Linked DNA regions of Homo sapiens: region 2 is linked to region 1. The links come from fine-mapping of genetic effects on gene expression. Tissue or cell type: whole blood. Region 1 holds a variant in brackets; the other region holds the start of a gene. All regions are shown on one strand. Distances are between the middles of the regions.

Region 1 (2,500 bases):
ATATGGAGTTGCTTTATGACTATTACATGTTAAATAAAAATAGCTTAATTGTTTTGGAGTTTTTTTTTAAAGTCATGAAGAGCTTCACAATTCTAGTGATACAATGTTGACTATATATTGTACTTTATATTAAATATAGGTAATACAGAATTAGATCGTTTGGATAGGTTTTGAGTTAGTGCAGAACTCAAGAAGAAAAATTAGGAAATATTCTGAAGGCCAGAACTCTGGAAGAACTTAGAAAGTTTGGGAATAAATTAAACTTATGTAGATTTAAAATTAAAAGGGGTTTATTTCCCAAACCCCTTGAGTCTTTTCTTTTCCTTGGTATTTATGGAATTCTTACAAAGAAAAATTTGCAGAAGTACTATTTTCGTGAATAAAACATATGTATCATTCTACTACCATTAGCAAATAACTTAGTTGTAGTTAATATAATTGTTAAAAGGTTTAGCTCTGTTACAAATAAAAACATAAAGATCTGGCAACCAGACTTTCATGATGTTACATTACCATGACAAGAAACTCTGGGCAGTAAAAGTTGGACCCACATGGAGTACATAAGCATCTGATACCTGGAGATGTATTTAAAATTTTTCAAGTTATCTTCCATGATTTAGGAACCATTTAGAGACATGAAGTCTTTATGGGTTGGGGGAAAGGTTGATAATTAGTTTGATTAAAGGTAATGATTAATATCCCTTTTTGTTCATACTTCCTTCTGAGGCTGTTTTCCCCTAAACAGTATCTTAATCTGTTACATGTAATTGAAATATTATTTGAAGCAGTGAGTTATTGTAACCTCAGATTAGTTACATTGATCAAAACATTGATTTATACACACACACACACACATACATATGTAGCTTTTATATTTAGTCTGGTTACATTAGTGACCATGGTATTTACTTTCTTCTTAAGGAGCCTTTGAATTTCTTGTCCAGATAAAAATCCGAATATTTCTCTTAGACTCATACATAAAGGGACACAGTTATCGTTAGGTAGCATATGTTTTACTATCGGTTTGTCAAAAAAGTTAATAAAAAGTGCTTATTGATTT[A/G]TTTCTCTAGAAATTTGCTTTGTCTTTTTTAGCATTAAAAATAATTACTATAGCAAAGCAGTCAAAGTTAGGTATATTATATATATACTTGGTAACTAAAGATGGGAAACCTAAAATGCTATTTTTCTTTCATAGCACATTTACTAGTATAAAGGAAGTAAGATCCTAATAAACTGAGCCTTTATTTAACTTCTTTGACCTAGTTTTAGGTTTACAGAAAAGTTGTAAAAATACAACAGTTCTTTATGTCTTATATTAATCTTAATGTTAAAATCTTACGTTATCATAGAACATTTATAAAACTTAAGAAATTAACCTTTGTATAATACTATTAACTAAAGTAGAACATTTTATTTTTACCATCTGTTTTTAGTGGAATTCTTCAAGGTCTTAAGACTTGTCCTACTTTTTTGGTAATAATTTAAGCCAGTAATTTATAAACAATTAAGATATGATTAGGAATCAACAAATGTTTATAGGTTGAAGATGTAACTTCTTGGTGTAACTATACTGGCAAAGGACTGTAATGATTTTACTTTATTCTAATTTATATTTTATGCAAGGATTTAATTAAGAATTTTCTTCAGAAAATTATTCAACCATCAAAGTGTAGAGAAACTTAAAGAGTTCTTGCAAATATTTTAAAGGGACTTTGAGTTATTTCCCCTCTCCGAACTCCCAATTTTTTTTTTTTTTTTAATCAGTTATTCCTCAGCCTGAAAATTTATGTCATGCGTATACTCACAGTAAGTAAACTTTTTTTTTTTTATTTTTTTTATTTATTTATTTTTTTTTTTTTGAGACGGAGTCTCGCTCTGTCGCCCAGGCTGGAGTGCAGTGGCGGGATCTCGGCTCACTGCAAGCTCCGCCTCCCGGGTTCACGCCATTCTCCTGCCTCAGCTTCCCAAGTAGCTGGGACTACAGGCGCCCGCCACTACGCCCGGCTAATTTTTTGTATTTTTTTTTTTTAGTAGAGACGGGGTTTCACCGTTTTAGCCGGGATGGTCTCGATCTCCTGACCTCGTGATCCGCCCGCCTCGGCCTCCCAAAGTGCTGGGATTACAGGCGTGAGCCACCGCGCCCGGCCAAGTAAACTCTTAAAAGCTCATTTATGAGGGCTGGTGTCCCTTTTAGGATATATGGGTATGTACTCTGTAAATTTTGTTTTTAGCAGTCAGGTACTTTTAAATTATCTATTTGAACATTAACAGGGTTTTTTTTTGTTGTTCATCTTTTATGGCAAATTATTTTGACTTGGCATTCATATTTGTTATTTACTTTGTTTTCACCAGTATAATTCCATGGCCTCAGTTTTGAAATGCAAGCTATTAAGCCCAGCTTGTTTTTAGGTTTTGTTAATAGGGTTTTCTGTTTCATTTGTTTTGATTGTTTGATAGGTTTTTTGTTGTTGTTGTTAATTATCCCTGACTGCTTCCCTAC
Region 2 (3,032 bases), 23 kb before region 1:
TAAAGTTATTTAAAAAGCCTTATGCCCTTTACCCCAGAACTGTCGCTTTCCAAAAATTTTCCTAAAGGGGGAAATTCGAAATAAGAAAAACAATACACAGGTTGAGCACTGTAACTTATATATAATAAAGTTGGGGAAATTAGAGAAAGGTTAAATTACAGTGCATTTATTCAACAGAATACTCCGTCATTTGTAACAATGACTATGAAACAAAATAGAAAAATACTCACGTTAGGTTAAATGAAGAAAACATACCTATCTATGGTGGATCACAATATGAAAATTTAATACTTCTAGGTAGAAGAAGAGAAAGAGAATATGAAAAACTAAAAAGTCTTTAGGGGTAGGAGGACGTGAGCAGATCTCTAAATAACCTTGAGATCAATGGAAACAGTGTATAGATTTTTAGGTTCACTTATAAGCTGCTGATCTTATTTTAAGATCCTTCAGTATATGTTATCAAAAAGTGTTTGCTTTTCTTGCAAACGCCCATGTTTGGGAAATATGCAAGTTGAAGCCAATGCATTACTGTACTTTTTATAATGCACCTGAAGTTTTACTAGCTGTTCCAAGAGTGGTGTACTGAGTATTGATAAATCGTTTAAGTGGAGGCTCACATGAAATATTAACTATTACCCCAGGGCTTTAGAGCAACTGTGATCAATTCTGGCACAGCATCAGATCCATAATTTTCTTTGCTACTCTGATTTCTACGTTTTTTGTATTTTCAAAGTAATGTGACCGCAACTGTTAAGTTATTAAAATTGCTCCTGAGATGAGGGCACTCGAGACACAAACACACGGAGAGGTTCGTCCGCTATTCCTCTCATTTACTAAGCTCACACGTCTACCCTGAGGATTTGGAAACACTGTATGATTCTGCACTTACTGTGCACTTATCCCTTAGTGCTAAGGGGTAAACAGATACCCACCGGGCTGTCTAAGGCGCAGCCTCAAGGCAAGGAAGAAGGGTGCTGGGTCGCAGGGGATGAGAGGGCGGGGCGGCCACTTTGCTGCAGGAGATACCCAAAGCCAGTTAGCACTGAGGAAGTCAGAAGAGAATTGTCAGTCTCTCGGACACCTTCATTTTCTGCCCCGGAAATTTCTCCTCCGCTGTTGTCTGGGCTCCACTTCCGACCCCCAGTTGCTACCAGCTGTAGTCCGACCTATCGTGGCCCGGGCTAGTGCCAGCCTCCCGCCGCTACCTCCGCCTCGTCCCTTCTCCTCTGCGCCTGCGCGACCGGAAAATTCGCGAAGGTTCCTGAAACGCAACGGATCGTTTCCGGAAGCCGGTAGCCGCCTCAGTCGTCAGACCGGTGCTAGCGACACGGGAGTGGCAAACGCATCCTCTTGCCGTTCCCGGTGTTTGGGCCTTGCCTGTGACGGTGGGAAAAGAAAATGGCCTTGCTGTGCTACAACCGGGGCTGCGGTCAGCGCTTCGATCCTGAGACCAATTCCGACGGTAAGAGGAACGCGCCGCCAGCCCTCCCTCCCCTCCACCTCATCAGCAGGGGAGGCCCTTTGGGCCGGAGGGTGTCCGCGGATCTCCTGCAGCCGTCCTCGCGCGGCCCCAGGTCCATGCCCCTCCTGGGCCTCCCTTGGCTGCCCGCGCAGCCCGCCGGCCGCCCCTCTGTTGCGCCGCGTTCCCTTGGCGAGCGCCCGGCCCCGGCGCCTGACTGTCCTCTGCCACTGCGGAGAGAGACGCTCCCATGGATCCACGTGTTTCCCCCGTCGTCCCCGCACTCCTTTTAAGTCGCCTGGAATTTAGAACGAACACGTTTCTCCTCTGGCCCTCCAGTCTCTGGGGAAGCAAAAATTAACGAGGTACTGGTGAGCTTGCTTTGTAGTTCCCGAAGTAGTGATGGCTGTGATTGCCTGCGCGAGAGGGAGAGGTGGCCGGGATGAGCAGCGGGTTGTCCTAGCATGTAAGCTCTGCCTTGTAGAAGTTTGTGTTCAGTCGATCCGCTGTTACAAACCTCTTACAAGTGTTCTTGGTAAGGGACATTACTCTGTATCTTCACGCTGTTTTGATAGGTTCATCCTGGTGGTACGTTAGTTATCTTTTTATTACTAGCGGCATTTGTTGCTTGTTCTTCTTGTGGCCTCCACGTTTTACTACCATGCCTACTCCCGTATAAAATGAGTGAATGTCATCTACAGCACCTAGATGTCGAGTTAAGGATCCAAAGCGAAAATGACTATTAGGTGAAGGACGGGAAATGATCAGTGAATTGAAATTTTGATTGACAAAGAAGTGAGATGATTCCTTGCGTATCGTGAGAAGTGACAACACGTTTTCAGATTGAACTAGCATTTAGTTTATATTTTCTGCATGCCAGCCATTATTGCTTTATCTTATTTAATCTTCATAACCACCCTGGGACGCATGTAATGTTAATTAGACCCATTTGATAGAGAAGCTCAGTTCAATGAGGTTGTATTAATAACATCCTTCATTATTGTGGAGGAGATGAAAACTGATGCCTTTTGAACTCTTCACCTCTGAGATGTTTGAAATACTTATTTTTGGCACACAGGTAAATTGATAGCGTTATTTAAAATAAGACCATTGATACAGAGTTTTAAGGAAAAGGAAAATCCAACCTATGCAATACTCAAGTTACCGCCACTGACATTTTTATGATGCAAATATGATGCTACTCATGAGGAAAATTGTGAGATTTCAGTCGATGACAAAATCGAGAAACGATTTTAAAGCCCTTTGGTGTTGGCAGCCTATGTAAAACATTAATTGCACTTATGTCTGCAGATATTCTACTTTAATATAGAATACAGGGGAAAGACTGACGCTTTGCTTATGAGACAATAAAGTTCAGGGGCGATAGTCATTTGTTGGAAGTCTGTATCCATGTGTGAATTGGTGCAGTGCCTAGGAAACAGAAAGCGACCAGGAAAACCGTCTCAAAACTTGGGTGGTCAGCAGTACTAGTTACAGCAGAGAAATTCCAATAAGTATATTTACTTTAGCGAAATGACGGTTTTTTTAGAGACTTAGAATACATTTTTCAAGT

Direction of the effects. Alleles are on the strand shown, and positions count from the first base shown. SD is a standard deviation of normalised expression in the study named.
For the expression in whole blood of the gene that starts at base 1,304 in region 2, A is the high allele of the variant in region 1 and G is the other (small effect, 0.10 SD a copy in GTEx).

The links. PIP is the estimated chance that this variant, and not a neighbour inherited with it, causes the effect.
Region 2: CHORDC1 starts here. The variant in region 1 is the best candidate, but not a certain one, in a credible set for the expression of CHORDC1 in whole blood (GTEx, PIP 0.53).

What each region holds. Positions count from the first base shown.
Region 1 is chr11:90,199,002-90,201,501 of GRCh38, reverse strand. CHORDC1 (cysteine and histidine rich domain containing 1) reads left to right here. Exons shown (of 11, transcript NM_012124.3): 11 at 1-1,073. Among named protein-coding and RNA genes, the nearest start is that of CHORDC1, 23 kb to the left of the region's middle. The variant A/G (reference allele first, on the strand shown) is at 1,061.
Region 2 is chr11:90,221,321-90,224,352 of GRCh38, reverse strand. It overlaps CHORDC1 (cysteine and histidine rich domain containing 1), which reads left to right and starts at 1,304. Exons shown (of 11, transcript NM_012124.3): 1 at 1,304-1,462. The coding sequence starts at 1,399. It overlaps LOC124902812 (a long non-coding RNA gene), which reads right to left and starts at 1,194. Exons shown (of 2, transcript XR_007062978.1): 1 at 933-1,194.